2 linked regions of the Homo sapiens genome follow. The protein of the gene in region 1 interacts with the protein of each later gene in a biochemical or structural test. Each region holds a gene or a part of one and is shown on either strand. Other genes may lie near its edges.

What was found. The genes of interacting proteins can lie anywhere in the genome.
Region 2: of the proteins of KLK5 (region 1) and FLG, one has a biochemical effect on the other in vitro, tested with the Homo sapiens proteins (one study listed by IntAct).

The regions. Positions count from the first base shown.
Region 1 is NC_000019.10:50,943,037-50,950,062, forward strand, and holds the end of KLK5 (kallikrein-5 preproprotein), read right to left. Parts: coding exon 6,819-7,026; intron 6,080-6,818; coding exon 5,823-6,079; intron 5,738-5,822; coding exon 5,604-5,737; intron 751-5,603; coding exon 595-750; 3' UTR 267-594; downstream 1-266. UniProt on the Homo sapiens protein: May be involved in desquamation.
Region 2 is NC_000001.11:152,322,227-152,329,867, forward strand, and holds the start of FLG (filaggrin), read right to left. Parts: upstream 3,014-7,641; 5' UTR 2,963-3,013; intron 1-2,962.

The DNA of each region.
Region 1 (7,026 bases):
GGTTGCAGTGAGCCGAGATTGTGCCACTGCACTCCAGTGTGGTTAACAGAGTGAGACTCCATCGCAAAAAAAAAAAAATAATAATAATAAATAAATGAAAATAAAAAATAGCCACCTGGCCAATATTTATGAAGAAGGTGAAAAGTAGTCTGACTGGACCTCTGTTTCTCACAACCCAAGTGACCTCATAGACAAAACACATGAGCCTGGAGGCGGAGATATGACTTGTTCACAGCCACCCTGCACAGGGAGGAGACACAGGAAGATTCCACTTCTCAGTTTATTTCTGGGACTAAATTTGGGTCAGAGCTGCAGAGAAGGGATGGGCCCTGAGCTTGAGGATGAAAGTGCCCCAGGGAGATTGAGACGCAACCCCCGCCCTGGACAGTTTTGGAAATTGTTCCCAGGGTTCAACTAGAGAGACACGGTCAGCCCAATGTGGGGGAAGCAGACCCTGAGTCCAGGAGACATGGGGTCAGGGGCTGGAGAGATGAACATTCTCAACATCTCTGGGAAGGAATGAGGGTCTGAAAGGAGTGTCAGGGCTGTCCCTGCAGCAGGTGGGGATGCCGGTGTGCTGAGTCCTGGGATGACTCAGGAGTTGGCCTGGATGGTTTCCTGGATCCACTTGGTGAACTTGCAGAGGTTCGTGTAGACACCCGGTCTGTTGGGCCGGGCACAAGGGTAATCTCCCCAGGACACGAGTCCCTGCAGGGAGCCATTGCAGACCACAGGCCCCCCAGAATCACCCTGCAGGAGAGAAAGGGGGGCATGAGAGAGGCAGAGATGTGGCAAAGTGGGCAGAAGGAGACATGAGAGACCCAGAGATGCCCATAGATGGAGAAGCAGATGGGAACAGACACACAGAGATGGAAAGTACAGAGATGAAGAAATGCAGAAAAAGACAGAGATGGAGACACAGGCAAAAGGAGAGAGAGGGAGAATGTTATTAATATTTCACTCCAAATCCAGCTTTTTTTTTTTTGAGATGGAGTCTTACTCTGTTGCCCAGGTTGGAGCGCAGTGGCCTGACCTCAGCTCACTGCAGCCTCCATCTCCCGGGTTCAAGCAATTCTCCTGCCTCAGCCTCCCAAGTAGCTGTGACTACAGGTGTCCATCACCACACCCGGCTAATTTTTTGTATTTTTTTTGTAGAGACGGGGTTTCACCATGTTGGCCAGGCTGGTCTCGAACTCCTGGCCTCAAGTGATTCGCCCACCTCAGCCTCCAAAGTGTTGGGATTACAGGCGTGAGCCACCATGCCTGGCCTCCAAGTTCAACCTTTAGACCCCATTTGTCACTCTCCACTCCATCTTCCTCTTCCAGATTCCTGTTGTCCACACATCATTTCGGGGGGGTCTGTGACCCTTCCTCTCCACATCTCGAATCTTCGTCTCTACTTTCTGTTCCAGCCTGTCTCCCTCATCGTGTATCTCTCCGCCTCCCTTTCTCTCTCACTCTCCCCTCCAGCCTGTGCAGGCCTTATTTCTCTTACTGGACACACACCTTCCTTCCCCATTCTCCACCAACCCATCCTTATACCTCCCTTCTGCAAAAATACGGTTCTCAGCCCCTGGATGAGGGTTCCTCGATCTGGGCACTGTGGGCATCTGAAGCTGGATAATGGTTTGTTGTGGAGGCCTGCCGTGTGCATCATAGCATGTTGAACAGCACACTTGGCATCTATCCATTAGTTGCCAGTAATGCCCCTCCATATAGTTGTGACAACCAAAAATGTCTCCTGGTATTGCCAGTGTCTTCTAGGGGCAGAATCACTCCCAATAGAAATCCATTCGCTTGGACTAATTTGTGTTTCCTGTCTTCAATTCCCCATACCTCCCTATAATTACCCTCCTATAATAATACTCACTGCTCTTCAACAGTCATTTTTTTCCCTCTTTTCCTTCTTTCCTTCCTTCCTCTCTCTTTTCTTTCTTCTTTCTTTCTTTCTTTTTCTTTCTTTCTCTTTCTTCCTTTCTTTCTCCTTCCTTCCTTCCTTTCTTTCTCCTTCCTTCCTTTCTTTCTCCTTCCTTCCTTCCTTTCTCTCTCCTTCCTCCCTTCGTCTCTTTTTTTTTTCTTTCTGACAAAAACGTCTTGCTTTGTCACCCAGGCTGCTGTCTGGAGTGCAGCAGTGCAGTCATGGCTTACCGCAGCCTCAAACGTTTGGGCTCAAGCAATTCTCCCACCTCAGCCTCCCAAGTAGCTGGAACTACAGGTGCAAGCCACCACACCCGGCTAATTTTTTTTTTTTTTAATTTACTACATATTTATCTATCTCTTTATTGCCTGTCTTCCACTTGGGGAACATGAGGTCCACGCGGCAGGAAGTTTTTGGTCTGTTTTGCCTGATGCCATATCCACAGCACCTGGAACCATTCCTGGTGCAAAATAGCCACTCGGCTAATATTTATGAAGAAAATGAAAAGTAGCTTGAGTGGACCTCTGTTTGAGGTAGAGAGAAATGTCTATCTCCCACCTGGGCACGGTGGCTCACACCTGTAATACCAGCAATTTGGGAGGCCGAGGCAGGCAGATCACTGGAGGTCAGGAGTTCAAGACCAGCCTGGCCAACATGGTGGAACCCCATCTCTACGGAAAAAAAAAAATAGCCAGGCATGGTGGTGGGTGCCTGTTATCCCAGCTACTTGGGAGGCTGAGGTGGAAGAAATGCTTGAACCCAGGAGGCGCATGCTGCAGTGAGCTGATATGGTGCCATTGCACTCCAGCCTGGGTGACAGAGCGAGACTCCGTCTCAAAAAAGAAAAGAAAAGAAAAGAAAAGAAATAAATATGTACATACTACAATAATGATGTAAGTGGTATGAATAAAATCTACTAAAATAAAAACAATTAGTATTTTTATTTTTTTAATTTTTAGTTGCCCAGGCTGGTCTTGAACTCCTGAGCTCAAGTGATCTTCCCACTTCAGTCTCCCAGAGTGCTGGGATTACTGGCATGTGCCATTGCACCCGGCTTCATTTCTTACTTACATGCATGCAAAATATGAATTACAGAGTCCTGGTATCAATTATTAGGAAAGCCAAGACTTGCCTTTTTCCCAGTAGCAGACACTGTTTCAAAGCAAACAAGCTTAGCTGCCTGTACCTCTAAATTTCAACTTTCTTGTGGTTTAATTTCTCTCATTATTTTTTAAATTTAATATCTCTGCAGAGTTTCTTTTGAGAGGCTGTTAGTTAACTGCTCTGAGCCTTGGCTCCTTGTTTGTAAAATAGGGCCAATAATAACAGGTAAATGAGTTAATGAGCTGAGGCATGCAAACCACTTAAAACAGTGTCCAGCAATTAGCCAGATGCTATTATTTTTATACTATTGGTATTAGTATTGTTGTAGTTGTTATTATTTCTTGCTTGTAGCTTTTAGTGGCCACACCCAGACCACACACCGGTATGAAAAAACAAACAAAAAAACACCTTGAGGTCTGGAAAAACAAGATACTAACCTTGCCTACAGAAAGGCTAAATAGTTTTAAATGCCACCACTTGAATGAGATGTGATTTCTTTTCTTTTCTTTTTTTTTTTTTGAGACGGAGTCTCACTGTGTTGCCCAGGCTGGAGTGCAGTGGTGCAACCTCGGCTCACTGCAAGTTCCGCCTCCCGGGTTCAGGCCATTCTCCTGCCTCAGCCTCCCGAGTAGCTGGGACTACAGGCGCCTGCCACCACGCCCGGCTAATTTTTTGTGTTTTTAGTAGAGACAGGGTTTCACCGTGTCAGCCAGGATGGTCTCCATCTCCTGACCTAGTGATCCACCCGCCTCGGCCTCCCAAAGTGTTGGGATTACAGGTGTGAGCCACCACGCCCGGCCGAGATGTGCTTTCTTCTGTTAAAAGTTTTCCCCCTCGCAACCCACCCCCCCACACCCAGGGCACAGAGAAGAAATGGGGAGAGCTGGGGAGGTGTTGCATTTGTCAGGTTTGTACAATTTGGGGGGAGCTTTTCATAGCCATGGGACTGGAGTACTCCTGAATCCCCAGCTTCCTAACTACTGTTGAAACACACACCCTGCTAATGAGAGCTTGTTAACTTACGTCCTTCTAGATCCCTTGGGAGCCTGAATACAGAGAAGGGTGCTGGTTGATGTAACAGTTTGATTTTAAATTCTGTCTTCCTCAACAGATACAGCTTCCATTAGAACATAGGGAAGCTCTGTGTTGGTGACCAAGAAATACTTGCAGAGCATTCGCCCCTGCCTACACCTCCAGCGTCACTTTCTACTGTTGCCCCCACTTTTGTTCTCCAGTTGCATTGGTTTCCTCTTCTTCTTTGAATCAGCCAAATTCCTTACTGCCTCAGGGCCTTTGCACGTGCCTTTTCTTTCCCCTTAAACTTCACGAGTTTAGCTTCTTTGTGTCATCCATTCTCTGCTCAAATGCCACCTCTCCAAGGAGGCTCCCCTGACCACCTTTTTGAATATTGGCCCTTATTGTTTACTATCCTAAAACCATGTTTTATTTTGGGGTTAACCTTTACCACTCTCTGAAATTGCCCTATTTATGCAGATTCTTGACCACAGAGTTTTTTATTTTTTAACTTTGTTCCTCCAGCCCTTCCAGCAGCTTTGCAATTAATCCCCTGTATTAAATATTCTCTTGTAAAAATACCTACCAGATTTCTCTTTTCCTTCCTCAAGATATTTTACCAGCACTTGCTAGAAAACTGTCATATTACAGATTTTGTTGAAACAAGACACTTAACTACCACACGCCTGAAAACTGCCAAAACTGACATCTGTAACACGGAGTGCCCCTATTAGATATGGTATCTTTATGCAGTGCACAACCTGCCCAACCATACAAAACAGCCCTGATCTTTCCCTCTAGATCCGTGCCATCCAATACAGTAACTGCTAGCCACATGTGGCTACTGAGCACCTGAAATGTAGCTAGTCCAAATTGAGATGTGCTGTCAGCATAACATATATACTCACTTTCAAAGACTTAATATGAAAACAAGAAAAGAATGTAAAGTATCTCATTCATAATTGTTTTATATTAATTACACTTTGAAATGATTGTATTTGGGATACATTGGGTTATTAAAGTTAACTTCACCTGTTTCTTTTTTACTTGTTTTTTTTTTTCTTTTTGAGACAAAAGTGTCACTCTGTCTCCCAGGTTGGAGTGAGTGGCACGATCTCAGCTCACTGCAACCTCCACCTCCTGGGTTTAAGTGATTCTTGTGTCTCGGCCTCCTGAGCAGCTGAGATTACAGGCGCCCGCCACCATGCCAGGCTAATTTTTGTATTTTTTTTTAGAGACAGAGTTTCGCCATGTTGGCCAGGCTAGTCTCAAACTCCTGACCAAAGGTGATCTGCCTGCCTCAGCCTCCCAAAGTGCTGGGATTACAGGTGTGAGCCACTGCGCCCAGCCTTTTTTACCTGTTTTAATGTGGCTACTAAAAAACTGGAAATGACATAAGCAGCTCAGCATTATTTCTACTAAACACCACTACTCTAGGGTATGAGCTCTGTGAGAACAGGGGTCCTGACTGTCTTGGCAATTGCTGGATTCTCAGAATTTGGCAACGCTCCATGTTACCGAGTTGGCACTCAGTGTGTATCTGCTGAATAAAGAGAGGTGTCCTCACCTGGCAGGAGTCTCTACCTGCTTTGTCACCGGCGCAGAACATGGTGTCATCTATCTGTCTCGGGTAAGCATCCTCGCACCTTTTCTGACTTAGCACGCTGATATTCAAGCACTGGAGGACCTTAGGGAAGTGCACTGTCAAACAGGAACACAATGAGAAGTGGAGAAAGATGGAAGGCGGCAGAGATGGGTCGGTATCAAGAAGAACCTGGACACTCACCTTGGGGGCTCTTGGTTGTCCCCCAGCCAGACACCAAGCACTTTGTCCCAGCAGAGGGACAATGAGAGGAGACGTTGATGGGTCTGACATCTTTAGTGGGACGAATTCTTCTGTTCAGTTTGATGAGCATGAGGTCGTTAGAGTGGCCAGGGTGGGAGTAGCCAGGGTGGGGGATGGATTTGACCCCCTGGAACATCTGCTGCCCAGATTCATAAACTGGTGACAGGGAGTAGTGGCCGAGACGGACTCTGAAAACTCTGAGGAAGATGGGGCAGGTCACCACCAACCCTGATCTCTATCTCCACGTCCAACGCCAATCCCAACCCCACACCCAGCCCCAGCCCCACCCCCATCCCCACCCCCGGTCCCCAAACCATCCTCAACTCCCTCTTGGTCTCCAATCCCATGCCTGTCCCCATCCCAGTCACAATTCCAAACCCATCCCATTCCCAACCCTAATTCTTTCCCTACCCAGAAGCCATCACCATATGCATTCTCAAGCCCAAATCCAACCATCTCCAACCCCACCCAAAACTCCAATCCCCATCCTTCATTCTATATCTGCTCCCAATCTCAACCCTATCTCCATGCTATCTTCATTTCCACCCCAGCCCGATTTTCACCCACCCCCAATTCTAAAGCCAATCCCAATTCCACCTCCATCCCAAACCATTCAACAAATATATGCTCCTAACCCCAAATCCAACCCATCCTTGGCTCCTTCCCATTCCCTACCACAACACTCTCCCCTCTCCAACCTCATCCTCCCACCTTGCTCCCCCGCAAAACTCCATCCTTAGTCCTATCCCCAACTCGACCTCCTCCTGCTCCCACATCCCCAACCCATCCCCACCAACCCTCACCTTCCATGACACCCCCAACCCCACTTCCCCGTCCCCACCAGCCCTCACCTCCATGACACCCCCACCCCCACTTCCCCACCCCCACCCCCACTTCCCCGTCCCCACCAACCCTCCTCTTGGAACTCCCACTCACTTCTTCCTGCAGTGGGCGGCCGTGAGCAGCCACTGTGGATGCACCAACACCGCCCCGCAGTAGAGCTGGTTGGGCCTTAGCAACAGCGCGGCCTGCCACGGCTGGGTGTGCATATCGCAGTCGGATCCATTGATGATGCGGCTGCTGCTGTCATCCGACCGGGCGTCTTCCCCGGCCCCAGCTCCCAGGTCCTGGTTGCTCCCAGAGG
Region 2 (7,641 bases), on another chromosome or scaffold:
ATAGTATCATCCTATTTAACATTGTACTAAAAGTCCTAGCTAGAGCAATACGTTAGGAAAAGGAATTAAAAGCAGAGTAATTGGAAAAGAAGTAATAAAACTGTTATTACTCACAGAATGATATAACTTTTGTATGTGGAAAATCCAAAAGAATGTATAGCTAAACTATTAGAATAAATAAACTAAACATGCTTCTGGTTATAAGTATACAAAAATCAATTGTATTTCTATATAACAGCAATAAACACTTAGAAAATGAAATAAGAAAAGATGCTATTTACAAAAGCATAAAAAAATCAGAAAAATTTTAGGAATAAATCTAATTAAAGATATGAAATGGCTGTACTCAGAATATTATAAAAGTTGAGATTATAAGTGCTGAGAAAATGAAATAGGAAAGGAGGCTATTCATAAAAGCATAAAAAAAGAGGAAATTTTTAGGAATAAATCTAAGAAAACATGAAAGAGCTATACTCAGAAAATTATAAATATTGAGATAAAGATTTAAATAAATGGACAATATATAGCTTGTTTATGAACTGAAAGTCTAAATAGCATTAAGATATCAAATCTCCTTAAATTCATTTATAGATGCAATGAAATCCCATTCTGAATATCTGAAGTTTTTTTAAAAAATAAAGATTAATAAGGTGATTTCTAAAATTTATATGAAAATGTAGAGGGCTAAGATTAGGTAAGACCATCTTTAAGAAGACTAAGTTGGAAGACATACCAGATAGCAAGGTGTGTTATAAAGGAAGAAAATATGGCATGATGCAAGGCTAAACAAATGGAATGATAAAAGATAATAGTATAAAGTCAGTCTTATATCACTCTGGACATTTGGTTAATGGCAAAGATGGTAGTGTAGGTCAGTAGAGAAAGAATAGTCTTGAATAAATGGTGCTGGGTTAATTGAATTTTCAAATGGAAAAAAAATAGTTTCCAGGTTGATTTTACATGTAAGAGATAAACGAAGATAACATTGGAGAATATCTTCAGGACCTCGGGGTGGGGAAATACTTAAATAAAATTCAAAAAGTACTAATTAATAAGAAAAAGACTGATAAATTGTACTGCATTAAAAGTAGGAATGTTTATTCTTTTAAAGATAGCATTAGAAGAGAGATGTACAAGCCACACAGTGGGAGGATATACAAAACACATTTAACCAATAAAGGAATCTGTCCTGAATATAAAAATAGCTTCTATAAATCAATAAAAAATACAGTTAACTCAATGGAAAAATGAATACCTTAGGAACGTTACAGAAAAGGATATCCAAATGGCCAATAAACATATCAAAACTTCTCAACCTTGTTATGCACTAGGGAAATGCAAATTGAAATAACGTGTGAGACCTCAATACACCCACCAAAGTGACTAAAAAGATAAGAAAGAAAAAAATCCTTGACAATACCAAATATTGGTGAGAATGTGGAGAATTGAGATTTTTTTTTTTTTTATGTACTGCTGGAGGCACATAAAGTGACAGAAGCACTTTGGAAAATTGTTTGACAGTATCTAAGTCCTAGCGATTTACTCTTAGGAATATTCCCAACTGAAATATGTACATATGTGTAACCAAAAGTAGTACACAAAAAAGTGCATAGCCCTATTATTTATAATACCCCCCAAAATGGAAGAGACCCAAGTATCTACCCATAGACAAATGGATGAATAAATTGTTATATTTTCAGATAACATAATAGTCAGTGTTGGGAGATGAAGGTAGACTGGACTAGGATGATAATGGCAGAGAGGGGGATAAATGGATAGATTTGGCAGGTTTGTAGGCAGAGTTGACTGGACGTGGTGATGAATCAGTGTGATGAGAAAACAGGAATCATGGATAACTTCTAGATTTTGGTATGAGCAAACAGTTATTTCTCGTTATTTCTATTATTTCCATCATCTTTCACATAAAAGAATGCAGTCTCTCCCTGCTCCTGCTCTTGCCTTCCTATATTCCTGTTTTCCACGTAGCAGCCCAGAGTGGTCTTTTAAAAACATAGATTATCTTACTCCTCCTGCTTAATACCCCTTTAAGTACATGCTAAAATCTAACATGTACTGTTTTAATTCTACTGTGCCCCTCTTTACATGAGCTACGCTGTCTAGCTCTCTGACATCACCATATACCACTGGTCCTCTTTTTAACTATGTATGCTCTAAGGCACACTAGCTTCTTTTTGCTCTTTGGGACAAGTTTACTCTTGCTTAGAATCTTGCCCTTTGCCTTGGCTAGTTTCTTTTGTGTTTAAGATCTCAACTCAAAGATAATTCCCTAGAGAGGTCTTCCCCTGGCCATCTAATTTAAAGCACTTTCCTCCTCCCTCCCATCACTTTACTACAAGCTTGTCCAATCTGTGGCCCAGGACAGCTTTGAATGTGGCCCAACACAAATTTGTAAACTTTCTTAAAACATTACGAGTTTTTTTTTAAGCTTATCAGCTATTATTAGTGTCAGTGTGTTTTATGTGTGGCCCAAGACAATTCTTTTTCCATTATGACCCAGGGAAGCCAAAAGACGGGACACCCCTGCTCTACTACATCACTCTTTTATTTTCTTCATTGTTCTTATCACTATTTAAAATTATCTTATTTGTTTATTGTTGTTTACTAAATGTTTCCCCCTATTAAAGGTAAGCTGCTAGGAGTTTATATAGTTCACTGCTGCATAGATAGAGCCAAGACCAAGTAGAAGGTAGTTAATACATATTTGTTAAGTAAATGAATAAATGGACAATCTAACAATACAGAGTATTGAGTAGCTCCATGGAAAGCAAATTTATGCCCTCATTTTCCTTCTATATAGAAATAAACCTTTTAGTGACAGTGCCACTAAAAAGAAAGAGAAAAACCCTAAACTTCCAGAACCTTTTGCCTTACAGTACACATACATTCAGATTTCCACCTTGGTTAATAGTAAGTAGACAAAATTAAATGTATTCCTTCTTACCTTGTTCACCAAAAGAGCAAATAGAATGTAGCCTGAAGGAGCCTGCTGGGTACTGAAGGCTGAGATAATGGCCCTTTTATAGCAGGCCCCATGCAGGGAGGAGCCACCCTCTGTGGGATGGTCTGATTCATTCCTAACCAAACCTAGATCCACCCATATCTCCACCTCTATTTCTCCAGCAACCTGTGTTTACTTCCCAGCTTCCTCACGTACTCATCTGTACTTGTTTCAGCAAGTTCCAAATTTGGGTTTACATATTGGAAATTTTATGGAAGGGTCCCTTTGGCTAATACAGGTTGTTTGTGTGCAGGGCCCATACCTACTTTTCTGTAACCCCACTTTGGCTTGACAGGTGCTTGGTAAATATCTATTGATAAATACACTTCCTGATCCTTGTCTCTAGAAGAGTAGGACATATTAATACGTTTATAAGAACTTGAAATTCAATTTATGATAGGAAAACATCACAAGCATCTACATATATGTTCTTTTTTAATCTATGTATTCCATCTTTGGGTACTGAAGAACTTGCCATGAGATGAATGCCGTCTTCTAGAAATTATGGTCAGTAGAGGATAGGCAAATTTAATTTTAATTTTTCAAAGCAGAGCAAGAATGTGAACAATTGAACTAGAAGTGGTGATCACTAGGAGCATGAGTTTAATTAGGCAAGACTCATTAGTGTAATTTTACTTTGTTTTCAAGGTTATTACATCGTGGCATCAGAGACATGTTCCACATACTCTTCCTTCTTAAACCATGAATTTTCTTTTATTGCCATAAATATACAGGGGACTCCTATCCCTGGTCTGTCTTATGATATACACACTGTTATGTTGAGCAGATTGCATCTCCATATGGATGTCCCATGGTTATCTCAATCCATAGTGTTGAAAACTGAACTTACATTGTGCCTCCTACCAAAATGTACTATCCTCCAGAAGCCCATATATTGGTAATGATGCCCCCACACACTGGGTGTCTCAAGCTAGACAAAGTCATTTTCATTTCTCCTTTTCCTTAACCCCTCATGCTCATGTCACATCGTATCAATTATACTCAGGCTTAGATTTTGTTATGTAGGCCTATTCTCTACCTCCAGTGCTATAATTTTAGTTCTGGACCTGACCATCTTTCAATTGGGTATTGGTAAAGAAAAAAAAGTGTCGTAACTAGCCTCTCTCTCTACTATTAAGCTGGCTTACCATCTTATGTCATTCGCTGTGCTGGTTTCTTCTTGCCTGCAGAATTTCAGACTTTTTTACCTGACGTACAAGCCCCTTTACAATAGGCATGAATCTGTATCTTTTCAATTGTCCCTCTTATTACCTGTATCTCATGGAAAAGTCACTCTAGAATGAGCAATATTTCTTGGACGAGCCCATATTGGTCCACTACTGTTCAAAATCTTTGCGTGCTATCCTCCACTACCTTGACTTGAGAGACCCTCATCCTTAACTTCTCTTTATCTTTTAAGATTCTTCAAAATTACCACCTCCTGCATAAAGCCTTACCTGACATCTCCAGATTTATCAGTGTTCCCTCACATACTCTGTATTTACCTCTCAATAGCACTGGTGATATTTTATATTAATTACTTATTTATATGTGTGCCCCCTGCCCCCTGGTGCCTTGAATCCTGTGTTTCTTCTCACCCTAGCATTGACTGGGTCTGAGTCATCCTTTGTGTCCTTGGGCCCTACAGCAATGCCTGGGACATGATCAAATAAGGGATGCAAGGGTGTGCCAATCTTGTTCAGAGTCAAAGAGATAAAAATATGCCCGAGTTTTTAAAACTGTGTTTAATGTCCTCGTTCTTAACCTTATTAGACCATTGATTCTTTCTTTTGTGGAGTATTGGTTAACATCTGTAGAACACAGATATTCATTTTCTCCTTTTTTCTTCTTGGGTCTAATTTTTTTATGCCAGTAGTTATTGCATTTTTGTCTCTACCATGATGTAATAATGATAGTAATCTATATTGTATACCCATTATGTGCTAGGAATGTGCTAAGATTTTGCGTGTATTAATTTTAATCATCAGGACAACCCTTTGAGGTCATTATTATTCCTCTATTTTAGAGATGAGGGAACTGATACTGATAAGGCACCCAAGGTCACCAAGCAAGTAAGTTACAGAACTAGGATTTAATCTGAGGTTATTCAGACTCCAACTCCCACATTATTTCCACCATGGCATATTGTTCTGGGTGTGAACTTTTATCCTTTTTTTGTTAACCTTATTTATATTTTTAATGTTTTAAACAGTGATTTCTCTCAAAGTACCTATGTCTGGGTGAACTTAACTGTGGAAATCATTGCAGGATCAGCAGAAAGACTAGACCATGGACTATGAGTGAGTGAAGAAGGTAGCATTGAGAGAGTGTCAAGAATGAGGCAATCTTGGATATGACCTTCTTTGGGGCCAAAAGACCCCAAATCTTGCAGAATTATGTCAATATGGAGGGTATTGTTTAGTGGTCTGCTCTAGGACTTTTTTCCTGACCATGTTGTGCTCATTGTATTTTATCAATAACTTAGGTGAAAATTTGGATAGATGGCAAATATTTTTAGGATAGACTGAGGATTCAAGAAGATTTTATCATGTTGCACCAATGGCTCAAATCTGATAAATGAATATTATTGAAAAAGTAAAATTCTGACTCCAGTTCCAAATTACACTTTACAAGGATAGGGTAGAAGACATGAGTAAAAAAAGCAATATTGTGGCAGTGGCAGAGTGATGCCATAGCCAAAAAGATAATGTGATATTAGGCTGCATTAAAATAAACACATTAGCTGGAACAAAATAGGTGGTGAGGTACTTGGCTCAGCATTTATCAAACTATTTCTGTAGCTCTTTGTTCAGTTCTGATGACCATTTTTCAGTAAGGATATGGACAAATTGGTATGTGTTCTGAGTAAAGTAGATAGAATGATTGTCTAGATGAGTGGCAAACAGAACTCAGTGGGATGGATGGATGGATGGATGGATGGATAGATGGATGGGAGATGCAATATCTGTCTTTGGCTATATGAGTGGCTGTTATATAGAAGAGGGATTATACTTGGACTATATAATCTCAAGGCAGGTAGAACTCAGATAAATATGTAGAAACTATAAGAAACCATGTTTTGGCTTTATGTAAGTGACGACTTTTTAATAGAATTGTCCAAACATGCAAATAATTATTTTTGGAGATAGTGAGTTCCCTATTATTGCCTAGAGAATTTTGAACTGGATGGAATCTTGGCATCAACTAGTTTAATCTGCTCACATTGTAGCTGAAGACTAGAAGGACCAATGTGGTATGGCTAGTAAATTAAAAAGTCAAGGCCCAGGCCTCCAACTCAGGGCTTTTCACTCCAAATCCTCTTTATGTTGCATCAGGTTGCATCAATTACAGGGAGATGAACATGAGACAGGGATAATTAGGATGGGAGTTAGGTAGAGGAACATTGGGTAGATGTCTGATAGATGCCCTTTTCAACCTGACAGCTACTATTCTATGATTGAAGTACATTTCTTTGCTTGACTCAGCTCAGCTCAGTTCAAATAGTTATTTGATCTGTGCAGTTTAATAACTGCAGGGGTAACATTATACTGCAAACAGGAGGATAGTTCTTGGGTTTTCATGCCCCACTTCCTGCCAGTCTGGCTGATCCCACTTGCATGCTAGCTTTTTACCCTCAGAATCTCAGGAATTTTTCCCCCTAAGTCTAAGGAATTTTTCCCCCTATTCAAATTCTTTGCTGTTGAATAGTGAACTCTGAGATGTGGCATGTCTTCTTATCTCCAGAGAGATCTTATTCTCCATATCATTGTTGCCACATAATGAAATGCTTTCAGTGGTGTTTTAGGTGTCTGTGGTCACATATTGCGGCTGCCAGCATTTGCTAAGGAGTGAAGGGAACTCCCCCAAGGCAGGAGTTATTGACAAATAATAAATTACAGGATTTCAATTATAATCATTCAATTGCTTGTCCCTCCCTTTTCCTACCCAGTAGGCTGGAAAGGCATTGTGTTGCCATCTGGCCTCTGGGCTGCTGATGTGGGTCAGGTTGTCACAATTCAAGGATCAGCCCTTTGAGATGTGTGACTGAGGCTGTAGGAGTGAAGGGGAGTTGGAATTTGTGGTTAAATGATTTCCTACAGGAGCTGTAGTCATCTTTTGGGAGGTGCTGTTTGGGGTTAGAATTTTTCCAGGTTGAATATTCTCTTGAATTCCATGGCATAGTTGAAGCTGATATTCCTGCTTAGTTAGCCATAGAGTGGTGGAGCAGTATCTGGCTAAAACACTTCCACTTGCAGCTTATATTTGCCAGGACAATGGTGATGGAAAGGAATCTTGATCCCAAGCAAACAAAATGTTCGAATTACCATTGATGCCCTCAGATGCTGCTTTCTTTATAGCCAGTCTCTCTTTCTCTCTCTCTCTCTCTCTCTCTCCCTCTCTCTCTCTCTGTGTGTGTTGTGTGTGTGTGTGTGATAGAGACAGAATGAGAGACAGACAGAAAGACAAAGAGAAGGAGGTAAAGGATGTAGAAGGAATGAGTGTGAGTGATAATAAGGCTTTTCCAGATAAAAGCAGGCCATTTTATGGCAATATGGATTGTCTTTCAGTTTTTCCATATGCCCAACATTTTCATTCTCGGGTACTCATTAACAGTTTCTTTG